4 linked regions of the Homo sapiens genome follow. The protein of the gene in region 1 interacts with the protein of each later gene in a pairwise test. Each region holds a gene or a part of one and is shown in the gene's direction. Other genes may lie near its edges.

What was found.
Region 2: the proteins of ERMP1 (region 1) and KLRC1 interact in binary tests that used the Homo sapiens proteins (3 or more experiments, as listed by UniProt).
Region 3: the proteins of ERMP1 (region 1) and SLC22A23 interact in binary tests that used the Homo sapiens proteins (3 or more experiments, as listed by UniProt).
Region 4: the proteins of ERMP1 (region 1) and MR1 interact in binary tests that used the Homo sapiens proteins (3 or more experiments, as listed by UniProt).

Annotation. Positions count from the first base shown.
Region 1 is NC_000009.12:5,823,118-5,826,617, reverse strand, and holds part of ERMP1 (endoplasmic reticulum metallopeptidase 1), read left to right. Parts: intron 1-1,398; coding exon 1,399-1,526; intron 1,527-2,616; coding exon 2,617-2,722; intron 2,723-3,500. UniProt on the Homo sapiens protein: Within the ovary, required for the organization of somatic cells and oocytes into discrete follicular structures.
Region 2 is NC_000012.12:10,445,528-10,447,952, reverse strand, and holds the end of KLRC1 (NKG2-A/NKG2-B type II integral membrane protein), read left to right. Parts: intron 1-320; coding exon 321-421; intron 422-1,290; coding exon 1,291-1,402; 3' UTR 1,403-1,925; downstream 1,926-2,425. UniProt on the Homo sapiens protein: Immune inhibitory receptor involved in self-nonself discrimination.
Region 3 is NC_000006.12:3,447,051-3,450,550, reverse strand, and holds part of SLC22A23 (solute carrier family 22 member 23), read left to right. Parts: intron 1-3,500.
Region 4 is NC_000001.11:181,050,983-181,054,482, forward strand, and holds part of MR1 (major histocompatibility complex class I-related protein 1 isoform 1 precursor), read left to right. Parts: intron 1-1,252; coding exon 1,253-1,528; intron 1,529-2,590; coding exon 2,591-2,695; intron 2,696-3,500. UniProt on the Homo sapiens protein: Antigen-presenting molecule specialized in displaying microbial pyrimidine-based metabolites to alpha-beta T cell receptors (TCR) on innate-type mucosal-associated invariant T (MAIT) cells.

The DNA of each region.
Region 1 (3,500 bases):
CAAGTATGGTTAATAGGTAATTTCTTCTTAAGTAGGAATGGGGTCTGGAATTTAACAGAGCCCAAACAAGCATTTTAATTTTAGCTAGCTACAGAGCCTTCCTCAGATTTGCAAAGAGAGGGAAAAATGAACATTGAATACCTACCAGGTGCTAGGCACTGGGCATTATCTTGTGTGACTCTTAAACCTGTGAGGTAGGTATCATTAGCTTGCTCTTTCAACCAGGAAATAGTGGAGTAAAGTGACAGAGCTCAAATTTACTTCCAAATCTTTCTTGCTCTCAAATCCACGCCAAACTCTTTGGCACCCTGCTTCAAATGTGTAAACCCAGAAATGTTACTGCCTGAGTTACGTTAGTGCTTATTTACTTTGATTACTCTTTAAGTTTTCTGATATGGAAAGTTTCAAATATATTCAAAAGCAGAATTGTTTAATGAACCCCAGTGTACTTATCTCCCAGCTTCAGCAGTCTGATCTTGTTTCTTTCCTACCACTACCCTCCCAACTTCTTGATTATTTTGAAGCAGATCTTAGCTATATCAGTTCCTCTCTAAAAGTATTTCACTCTGTGTTGCTGGCAGATAAGGGCCCTTTTTGATACCACCAATTGCCTCACCTAAAAAAACCTAACAGTAATTCCTTGGTATCATCAAATATCCAATCAATTCCTTTAATTGTCTCTTACAATGCTTTAAAAAAGCAAGACAGTTAAGTCATCTTTATAGTTACTTTTAATTAACATACAAAATTTCTGAATCAAGAAGAGGTTCAGAGATTCAACTGAGTGTGTGTTCTGGGACCTAGGATACTACTTAGGTCATTAGTCTCCTTTCCTGTGACTTACTAGATTAGGTATCTTCTTTTTAGTTTTCCATCACATAATCCCCTTGGAGAAGCCTTAAAGGAATGTTACACCATCCAAAGTGACCTCTCTGTGCAGCTTTTATGATTTTGGCAGGAAAACAAGCAAGAAAGGAGTGGGTGCAGTGGGAGATGATGCAGGAAGCTGTGAGCACCAGAAGTGAGACTATTACAGAGGATGTGGAATACGGGTAAAGAATAGAACAGATTGCCTTGGTTTGCTGAGAATACCAGTTTCCAGTATGACTTTAGGTCCCCTCAGGTTACTTCATTTAGCAGACACTAATTGAGTGACTCTGGTGGGTCAGGCATGGTAGTAGGCATTGAGAGTAAGTCAGTGAGCAAACCAGACAAAGATCCCTTCATGGAACTTACTGCTGGTGGGTGTGATTGTCACCTGATGATGACAGAGCTATGCTTCTGGTCATGCAGCTATTGTGATGCTTCTCTGAGGAGAAAGCTCCATTCCTAGTCCTAATGGGTCATATTGTAAACATTTTAAAATCTGAGCAGCAAATTTGTTTTTCTGATTTGAAGGTGCCAGTGATGATGCAGTTAGCTGCTCAGTGATGCTGGAAGTCCTTCGCGTCTTGTCAACATCTTCAGAAGCCTTGCATCATGCTGTCATATTTCTCTTTAATGGTGCTGAGGAAAATGTCTTGCAAGTGAGATTTTACTGTTTTAAATATCAGGCTTGAATAAGGATGAGATTAATAATAATAGCTAAATATTATTTACTAAATAGTAAATGCATTTTTTATGACTCCTGTGGGTAGTATAAAATAATATGCAGAAAAATACTTTATGAGCAGTACTTTAACAAATTCACAACCACTTATGTAGAGATGTTTAATATTTGGAAAACTCCACTTAGCAGATTATTGTGGCAGGATTTGATTGAGAGAAGGGCTCTCGCTGGCATAATTACTCTCCTCAGGTTTTCTTTGACATTGAAGTTTCAGAGATGTTTTGAGACAGGCACAAATAAATGCCCAGCCATATGGATCGTCTCTTCTCCTGTTCTCTTTTTTTTCTTTCTTTTTAAAAAGAGAAGGGGGCCAGGCACGCTGGCTCATGCCTATAATCCCAGCACTTTGGGAGGCCGAGGCAGGCAGATCACGAGGTCAGGAGTTTGAGACCAGCCTGGCCAACATGGTGAAACCCCGTCTCTACTAAAATTACAAAAATTAGCCAGGCGTGGTGGTGGGTGCCTGTAATCCCAGCTATTCGGGAGGTTGAGGCAGGAGAATCGTTTGAACCTGGAACGTGGAGATTGCGGTGATCCGAGATCGAGCCATTGCACTCCAGCCTGGGCCACAGGCTCTGTTTCAAAAATGAGCAAACAAAAAAAGAGGGAGTCTCGCTATGTTGCCCAGGCTGGTCTCGAACTCCTGAGCTCGGGTGATCTTCCCACCATGGCCTCCCAAAGTTTTGGGATTACAGGTGTGAGCCACCGTGCCTGGCCCTCTTTGCCTTTTCTTTTGCACAGCCTTGTACTTACCAGGGATGTTGTTTGGCACCGCTGATGGTCACCAGGCTGCCTTCTGTGATAGGTGACTTTCCGAACCTGATGTGCATGGCCATTATGCATAGGAAAAGAAGCAGAAGATGTCTTTGGATACTGCCTTTGAAGAGCGATTATTTTGTTTTCATATTCCTTACCTCATCAAAGTAGTCTCTCTGTGTTTAAGCAAAATCAAGACTGATAATTTAAGATTGTTTAACAAATATTTGTTTTCTTTCCTTCTCTTTAAGGCCAGTCATGGTTTCATTACTCAGCACCCCTGGGCTAGCTTGATTCGTGCATTCATTAACCTAGAGGCAGCAGGTGTAGGAGGGAAAGAACTTGTATTCCAAACAGGTATGTGAGATTGTGCGTTGTATATTTTAATGCAATTCTAGTTTTTGTAAAAGTAGAAAGTTTTTGATTATAAATAATATCTTCAATAAACAGTCTCTTGAATGAGCATTCTTTTTAAAGCATGAGGTGGTGTTAGCTTGTCTTTGTTAAAAATTTTGAACCAAATAATGCAGCATCTAACACTTGTATAGTGCTTATTATATGCCAAGTGTTGTTCAAACCATTTCATATATATTAAGTCATTGAATCCTCCAAACAACATGTAAGATAAGTACTGTTACTTCCATTTTAGAGATGAAACTGAGTCCAGAGAGATTATAACTTGCCTAAGGTTTCACAGTTGTTTAATGGCAGAGTGTGATTTGAACCTAGACAGTCCGGGTCCAGAAACTTTGTTCTTAACCTCTAATTGGATTGTTATATAGGTAGTGAACTTTTAGCCACTGTGGGTGGTTATGATATAAATATTGTTAAATGTCAATCATTTCATGAGTTAAAATGAGAAAATTTACCTGTAGTGTATGTAACAGGTTTAAATTTATCATTGATTTAGTGGAATGTTAAAAAAATTTAGTAATATTTAATCAGCCAGAATAATTTTTATTTTATTGTTTTTTTAGAGACAGAGCCATGCTCTGTCACCCAGGCTCGAGTGCACTGGTGCCATCATGCAGCCTTGACCTCCTGGGTTCAAGTGGTTCTCCTGTCTCAGTTTCCTGAGTTGCTGGGACTGCAGGTGCTTGCTATCACGCCTGGCTATTTAAAAATTTTTTTGTAG
Region 2 (2,425 bases), on another chromosome or scaffold:
GAAATATAGCACAAAAATAGTTTGATTTAGTCACAGTATCTGGAGGAATGAATGCACAGTATCAGGAGACTTATTTAAATCCTTACTGTGTTTATTCAGTCAATTGGGGTAACTATTATAATGCAAGAATTAAAACTTCTTTATTAACATGAGAAGAATAAAAGTACTAAGTATAAACATTGACGGGTTCATTTATATCAAAATTATAAACATTTATGAAAGTTTTTGGCACTGCAAATAGTGGTTTTCAAATTTAATATATTGTTTTTGTAATGTTTTCATAATTATTATTTAAGTGAAAATTCTTTCTTTTCTTTTAGAAATTTCTGTCCATCATTTCACCATCCTCATGGATTGGTGTGTTTCGTAACAGCAGTCATCATCCATGGGTGACAATGAATGGTTTGGCTTTCAAACATGAGTAAGTTGTTTTGTATGGCGCTATATAACAATATATATATAAAGGATAAATTCAGAAGAATAATATGAATAAATCTATGTGGAATCATAGAGATGAAGAAAGATGTGGAAAGTTAGTGAAATGCTGACATAAATATTTTACAATAGACCATAGTAGTCCATATATTTCAACCGCTCATTGGTCAGCTAGTAACCTTCTTGATTATCAGGTGTCCAATCTTTGGCTTCTGTGGGCCACATTGGAAGAAGAAGAGTCTTGGGCCACACATAAAATACACTAACACTAACGATAGCTGACGAGCAAAAAAAAGAAAAAAAAAATCACAGAATGTTTTAAGAAAGTTTACGTATATGTATTGGGCCGCATTTGAAGCTGTCCTGGGTCACATGCGGCCCGTGGGCAGCGAGTTGGACAAGCTCGAGCTGGACTATCAGGGAATTGCAGTGCTTGTTTTTATTAAAAAGCCACACTTACTTTTTTTCTTAAGAATATCCTCAAAGCACAAGAGTAGTGCTGTTGGCATATTGCTATAATTTTGTTATTAGTAGTTATTGTTGTCAATCTCTTATTGTGCCTAATTTATAAATTAAATTTTATCACAGTTATGAATGTGTAGAGAAAACATAATCTCTCTATAGGTTCTGCACTATCTGCCGTTTCAGGCATCCACTGGAATCTTGAAACATATCCCTCGTGGATGAAGGGGGACTACTCTGTTGAGTGTTCAGAATAATGACTCTTACTAATATTATGAAAAATTTAATTACCCTTTTCCATGAAATTATTTTCTTACAGTACATGGAAAATGCTTTCGTCTCATGAATCATTTGCTTAAAATGTAACAGAATATGGATTTTTCTCCATTACAGGATAAAAGACTCAGATAATGCTGAACTTAACTGTGCAGTGCTACAAGTAAATCGACTTAAATCAGCCCAGTGTGGATCTTCAATAATATATCATTGTAAGCATAAGCTTTAGAGGTAAAGCGTTTGCATTTGCAGTGCATCAGATAAATTGTATATTTCTTAAAATAGAAATATATTATGATTGCATAAATCTTAAAATGAATTATGTTATTTGCTCTAATAAGAAAATTCTAAATCAATTATTGAAACAGGATACACACAATTACTAAAGTACAGACATCCTAGCATTTGTGTCGGGCTCATTTTGCTCAACATGGTATTTGTGGTTTTCAGCCTTTCTAAAAGTTGCATGTTATGTGAGTCAGCTTATAGGAAGTACCAAGAACAGTCAAACCCATGGAGACAGAAAGTAGAATAGTGGTTGCCAATGTCTGAGGGAGGTTGAAATAGGAGATGACCTCTAACTGATAGAACGTTACTTTGTGTCGTGATGAAAACTTTCTAAATTTCAGTAGTGGTGATGGTTGTAACTCTGCGAATATACTAAACATCATTGATTTTTAATCATTTTAAGTGCATGAAATGTATGCTTTGTACACGACACTTCAATAAAGCTATCCAGAAAAAAAAAAAAAGCCTCTCCTGGGATTATTTGTGACTGCATTTATTCTCTAAAGTAATTTTTAAAGATTAGCTTCTTTATAATATTGACTTTTCTAATCAATATAAAGTGTTTCCTTCAATGTACTGTGTTATCTTTAATTTCTCTCTATTGTATTTTGTATTTTGGGGGATTGAAGTCATACAGAAATGTAGGTATTTTACATTTATGCTTTTGTAAATGGCATCCTGATTCTAAAATTCCCTTTAGTAATTTTTGTTGTTATAAATAGAAATACAACTGATGTCTGCATTTTGATTTTATATCTACTTATTCCACTGATTTTATATATGTAAATCTATTATGTCAACTATTGATTTATTTCTGGGTGTTCTATATAACGAGCAATTTTATCTGCACATGATCACACTTTTATTTTTTTAATCTATATGCTATAACGTAGTTTTATTTTCATTTATTTTCACTGGCTAGGGTTTTATACCCATAGTTGAATAGAAGGTACAATCAAAGTTC
Region 3 (3,500 bases), on another chromosome or scaffold:
GGCGGATCACGAGGTCAGGAGTTCCAGACCAGCCTGGCCAACATAGTGAAACCCCATCTCTACTAAAAATACAAAAATTAGCCGGGCATGGTGGTTTACGTCTGTATTCCCAGCTACTCGGGAGGCTGAGGTAGGAGAATCGCTTGAACCTGGGAGGCGGAGGTTGCGGTGAGCCGAGATCACTCCACTGCACTCCAGCCTGAGCAACAGAGCGAGACTCCGTCTCAAAAAAAAATAATAAAATACTGAACTGACTACCATGAGGTCATCCCAGTGGTGGCTTTTGTCTAGTATATGCAACAACAGTGGATATCTTCATGCATATCTATTTTTAAAAATTGACTATAGTAGGTAATACATGTACATTGTACAGAAAGCATAGCATAAAAGTAACATTTCTTTCTGTCTCTGCCCCCAGTTTCCCTCTTCAGAAGCAACCATGGTTACCAGTTTCTCACATCCCCTTCCAGAAATGTTCTACTTTCATTTACATATTTTGTCTCAGAAACACTAGCGTATCCGAAACACTGTTTTTTCACTTATGCTGGAGATGAATACATCAGTACATAGAGATACTCATTCTTTTTTATGTCTGCATAGTATTCCATTGTCAGACTGGACTGCCATTTATTTAACTAATCACTTACCGAGGAAGCATTAAGTTTGTCTCCAGTCTTTGCTGTTATATTCACAATATATCACGAAATCTTGGCATGCACAGACATTTGCACACGTGTAAGAAATTTTTAGAAGTGGGAGGGTGAAAGTAGGCTGCATTTTTATGTTAATACTGTCAGAGTGTTTTCTGTAGAAATCTTAGCTATGCACAATTATACTAATAATATGTGTGGTTCTGTTCCCTACACCCTCCCTGACCCAGGGGATTATCAAATCTTTACATATTTTCTAGTTTGATGTGCAAAAAATTGTATTTGGTGGTGGTTGTGACTTGCATTTCTCTTGTTATGAAGGAAGTTAAACATCTTTTTGAAAGTTTTTGAGCCATCCATATTTCCTGTTCTTTGAACAGTCTCTTCATTTCCTTTGCCTTTATGTGTGTGTATATGCTGTGAGAAGCATTATTTTCTTATGTATTTATAGGTACACTTTATGTATGATGTAAATTAACCCTTCTGGATGACTTGTAACCATTTTCCTCGAGTTTGCTGTTTGGTTTTTTAAATTTTGTACATGATATTTTTGTTATGTAGAAACGTATGGTTTGGTTAGAGTTGTATGAATTAATCTTCTTTTTTATGATTTCTTATGTTAGCTTTAAGGCTTGGAAGATTCCTGGAAGACTGGGGGGAAATCCTATGTTTTCTTCTAACATTTTTATGATCTTATAACTTCTTTATTTTGGGGTTGGAGATACCTGTTTTGCTTTTCTGAGCTATTAGGATAAATTGCTAGAAAGGTCAGAGGATATAACCAGCATTTCATGCAGACGTTGACTTGCTTGTAACAACGTCCTAAACATTTAGTTTGGCAGTGGCCCTTATTAATGTAAGGATTAGAGGCTAGCCAGCTGTTAAGCAGCCTTTCCACCTCCGTTTGGGAGATAGCTGTCTTCCCAGGTCACAGGTCTCCCTTTCCTTCTTCATCTTCCTGTTCTGAACCATCTGCAGATCTCTCCCTCTCCCTCTCCGTCTCCCTCTGCCTCTCTGTAGCAACATTTTCTGCAGGTGCCTTTACTTTGGCCTTTAGTCCAAGATAGGATTGAGTCGAAAGTTGGTGTCATTTAAAAACATGGTGGGGGCTGGGCGCGGTTGCTCACGCCTGTAATCCCAGCACTTTGGGAGGCCGAGGTGGGCGGATCACGAGGTCAGGAGTTCAAGACCATCCTGGCCAACGTGGTGAAACCCCGTCTCTACTAAACATACAAAAAAATTAGGAGGGCGTGGTGGCGGGCGCCTGTAGTCCCAGCTACTCGGGAGGCTGAGGCAGGAGAATGGCGTGAACTCGGGAGGCGGAGCTTGCAGTGAGCGGAGATCACAACACTGCACTAACTGTCTGGGGGACAGAGCCAGGCTCCGTCTCAAAAAACAAAAAACAAAAAACAAAAAAACATGGTGGACTTTCTGAATCTTTGTCCTGAGGTTGCCACAAACTGGTGGTGTGTGGGAGCCAGCTTGGCTTCTATTGACTCTGAGCCTGCTGCACGTGTCTATCCAACTTCACATTCAGTAATGTCATGCTGGCAGCTTGAAATTCACCATGGTGGGAGCATTTACACCATAGGAATTGGCAAACAGTGGAGATCAGGGTTTTTTTTCTTCATAGAGCCGGTTGTTAAACATTTATCACACTAATGAGTGTGACCCTGGACCACTTGAAAAAATTTTTTTGGCCGGGCGCGGTGGCTCACGCCTGTAATCCCAGCACTTCGGGAGGCCGAGGGAGGTGGATCACCTGAGGTCAGGAGTTCAAGACCAGCCTGACCGACATGGTGAAACCCCGCCTCTACTAAATATACAAAAATTAGCTGGGCATGGTGGTGGGTGCCTGTAATCCCAGCTACTCAGGAGGCTGAGGCAGGAGAATCGCTTGAACCCAGGAGGCAGAGGTTGCAGTGAGCCAAGATTGCGCCATTGCACTCCAGTCTGGGCAACAGAGTGAGACTCCATCTATCTCAAAAAAAAAAAAAAAAAAAGAGAGAGAGAGGCCAGGCATGGTAGCTCATGCCTGTAATCCCAGCACTTTGGGAGGCCGAGGTGGGTGGATCATGAGGTCAGGAGATGGAGACCATACTGACTAACACAGTGAAACCCCATCTCTACTAAAAATACAAATAATTATCCAGGTGTGGTGGCGGGCACCTGTAGTCCCAGCTACTTGGGAGGCTGAGGCAGGAGAATGGCGTGAACCCGGGAGGCGGAGCTTGCAGTGAGCCGAGATTGCACCACTGCACTCCAGCCTGGGCAACAGAGCAAGACTCTGTCTCAGACAAAAAAAAAAAAAAAAAAAGAAAGTTTCTTTCCTCTCTCCTCCTTTTCACAGATTTGAGTGCCTGTTCTGAGCTGAGCATTGTGCTATGTGTTGGGGATACAATGATATGTGAAAGTAGACAGCTCAGCTTCCATAGAGCTTAGAGACTTCTGGGGAAGGCACACCCAAACTGATCAAGTAATAATCTTTTCATTACAAAGTGAGTTAAGCGTGTAGAAAGAAAGGGAATTGAGAGACTAGAACAACAACAACAAAACCCTGACCTAGACAGACTGGTCTATGTAAGAAAGTGACATCTGAGATGAGAGCTGAGGTTTGAGTAGGAGGTAGAGAGAGAGGCAAAAGAGGAGAGATGTGTGTGTTTTCCAGAGACAGCAAATGGCACTTGCAAAGGCCCTGTGGTGTGTAGGGCCTGGAATTGATAGCAATTGATATGGGAATGGGGGGTGGCGATGGCTTATAAACCGTGCTAAGAACTTTTCCTCTAATTTTAGAGCAAAGGAAAACCATTAAAGAGTATTAAGTGGGATAAGGGATATGATGCAGTCAGA
Region 4 (3,500 bases), on another chromosome or scaffold:
AAAAAAAAAAGTATTAATGATAAGATTCCTTTCAGCAAAGAGCTCCTCTTATACCTTAAAGATATGATTCAGTTGGTCAACTTTTAGTTCATATAGAACTTTTCATGTATGGTCTTGTTATTCAAAATTAATCACACCTGTATGATGCTACAGGAAACTCCTAGATACAATGTGTGTGGGAAGAGTATGGGAAGCTCCCCTCTCCAGGCCTCTGTCTACATTCAGTGTCCTAATGGATTTTCAACCTTTTGGTCAAAACACACTCCTAAAAAAACAAACAAAAAAAAAAAAGAAAAGAAAAAACACATTCCTAGAAAAGGATCTTGGATTAATTTCTTACAGGCCCTATCAAAAAGCACAGTCCCTCCTAGTAGCATTTATTTTACTTTTAATGTTGGAAAGCCTTTTTCTACTACCAAATATCATGCCTCGGTAAAGAGACAAGGAAAGCATTGTTGGAGTGAAGGCTCTTCTCCGTATTGGGTTGGCCGATGATAAGGTGGGGGTCAGGAGGCAAGTCAGAGATGAGCAGGAAGCAGTCCCCCCCAGATAGTGCCTTTGGTCTCGGTATGGCTGTTTGACCCAATTTCAGCAAGAAACATTAAGGACAGGACTGTATGGAAAATTAAGAGTAGTCATGAGGAAGCAAGGTCACACGTGGGTACTTCTTTGGTGTCACTGCTGGAGCCCTTCTATGATATCAGTTTCTTCGAAGGCACAACCATGGCATGATCTACTACATATGTTTGTACCTGATGGCAGTCATCAAAATGCCAGCGCAAGTACACAAGGCAATTCGGAGCCAAAACTGAGTGGGGATGGCTGTGTTATTTACGTGCACTAAACACAGAAATGAGAACAAGGAGTTCTAATCTCCAATCTATTGCTGACTTACTTATTGGGAACAGTCACTTACACATTTTATGGGTCAGTTTTCCTTGACACATAAAGGTATTTCAAAGGTTACTAGTAAACAACCCCAGCACACTTTCCAAACAGTCAAAGCTGTATGACTTTCCCCCCTTAGAGGATGGAGCATGGGCCAACTCCACATTCTTCACTACCTAGCACCTTGCCATCATGGAAGGTATACGTAAATACGTTTGTTGTTGATGAACCTGAGTTCTGGGTCATTCTTAGCTTTAGAAGTTTCCTGCAATAAAGAAAAATTAGGAAAGCCAGTTGCCAAGTTCTAATATTATATGCTCAGTACATAAGGCACTTTGATTTAACTTTAGCTTCTTCTTCCTAGAGCCCCCACTGGTCAGAGTAAATCGCAAAGAAACTTTTCCAGGGGTTACAGCTCTCTTCTGCAAAGCTCATGGCTTTTACCCCCCAGAAATTTACATGACATGGATGAAAAACGGGGAAGAAATTGTCCAAGAAATTGATTATGGAGACATTCTTCCCAGTGGGGATGGAACCTATCAGGCGTGGGCATCAATTGAGCTTGATCCTCAGAGCAGCAACCTTTACTCCTGTCATGTGGAGCACTGCGGTGTCCACATGGTTCTTCAGGTCCCCCAGGGTAAGGACGGGGATCGTGGCTGTCTAGGGAGAGAGCCTGGAGAAAGGGGTGAGCAGGAAACCATGCTCGCTGCCAGGGAGGGGAGGATAGATCACTGCCTCACTCAGTGTGCCTTAGAATGGGTCTTTTAAATAAGTGGTTCTCACACTTTTTGGAACCAGGACGCCTTCATACTATTAAAAAATTATTGAGGACCCCAGAGAGCTTTTGCTGATGTGGGTTATATCTATTGCTATTTACTACATTACAAATTAAAAATTTAAAAATTAAACACGAATGGGTGCAGTGGCTCATGCCTGTAATCCCAGCACTTTGGGAGGCTGAGGCAGGTGGATCACTTGAGGTCAGGAGTTCGAGACCAGCCTGGCCAACATGGTGAAACCCCATCTCTACTAAAAATACAAAAATTAGCCAGGCATGGTGGCGCATGCCTGTAATCCCAGCTCCTGGAGGCTGAGGCAGGAGAATCGCTTGAACCTGGGAGGTGGAGGTTGCAGTGAGCCGAGATCGCACCACTACACTCCAGCCTGTGCGAAGGGAGCAAGACTCCCTCTCAAAAAAACAAAAAAACAAAAAACAAAAAAACACAACCCAGGCGCAGTGGCTCACTCCTGTAATGCCAGTACTTTGGGAGGCTGACGCGAGTGAACTGCTTGAGCCCAGGAGTTCAAGACCAGCCTGGGCAACATACTGAGATCTCATCTCTACAAAAAACACAACAATTAGCTGGGCATGATGGCATGCGCCTGTAGTCCCAGCTACTGAGGAGGCTAAGGTGGGAGGATCGCTTGAGCCCAGGAGGTTGAGGCTGCAGTGAGCTATAATGGCACCACTGCACTTCCACCTGGACGACAGAGTGAGACGCTGTCTCAAAAAAAAAAAAAAAATTAAACACAAGAAAACACAAGCAGATATTCCATTAGTGGTCAGATTGATGAGTGAGAAGCAACAGTAAGGAAAATGGTGTTGGGTTTCCTGATGATCACAGGGACAAAAGTCCCAGAAAGTTAACACAGAAGGGAAAGGGGACTTGTGGATTTTTTCTCATTTGCTTGCTTTCAGAATCAGAAACTATCCCTCTTGTGATGAAAGCTGTCTCTGGGTCCATTGTCCTTGTCATTGTGCTGGCTGGAGTTGGTGTTCTAGTCTGGAGAAGAAGGCCCCGAGGTGAGAGGCACATGGAAGGGATCCAGGGGGCTGCAGACTCTCCTGCATCTCTCCAGTTTTATTTTCTGCACCTGCTGCTCCCTCCTCCATTCAGAAATGGCTTGGCTCTCAGGCTGGGATCACAGAAGGACCTGGGACAACCCTCCCACCATGTAGGGGACACAAAGCATGGATAAAGCTTACAGGGAGAGTGGTCTCTTTTCATAGGTGATGCCTGACATCAACAAACTAGTACATCTGTCCAGGGGAACTGTCCCCCTAGAAGTTGGGTCAGAGAAGATATGGGGATCTTGATTTGTCTTTTTCCAAACCATCTTTTTATTATTAATTACTATTGACTTCTGGGGCAGTGTCCTTTGTTTCAAGACTTCAGTCAGTTTTCCCATTTTGACCACCATTCTTTCATCCCAAGCATATGAAAGTCCTTTTCCTTGTAAATTCATTATTCAAAACATTAAATATGTAAGAGTAGATACCTTCAGGGAATGGGACTTAGAGTAAGGAAAAGGGGAGGAGAAGTAGGAGATATATAGGCTCTTGATAATGTGGAATAACATAAATTCATTCAGTAAGTATACATTAATGACCTACTGTGCTCCAGGCACTGTACTGGTTGCTGGGATATAACAATGAACAAGACAGATACGATCCCTGTTTTCATAGAGCTTACAATAGAGCCTGGTAAGGTTATCTCCTGGCTCTGGCTTCACTAATTGCTCAAATTGATCACAGGATAGTACCGATGAGACCATGCTTTGAACCCAAAGTGGACCAGAAGTTTGGTTTTCCTTCATAGACATAGACC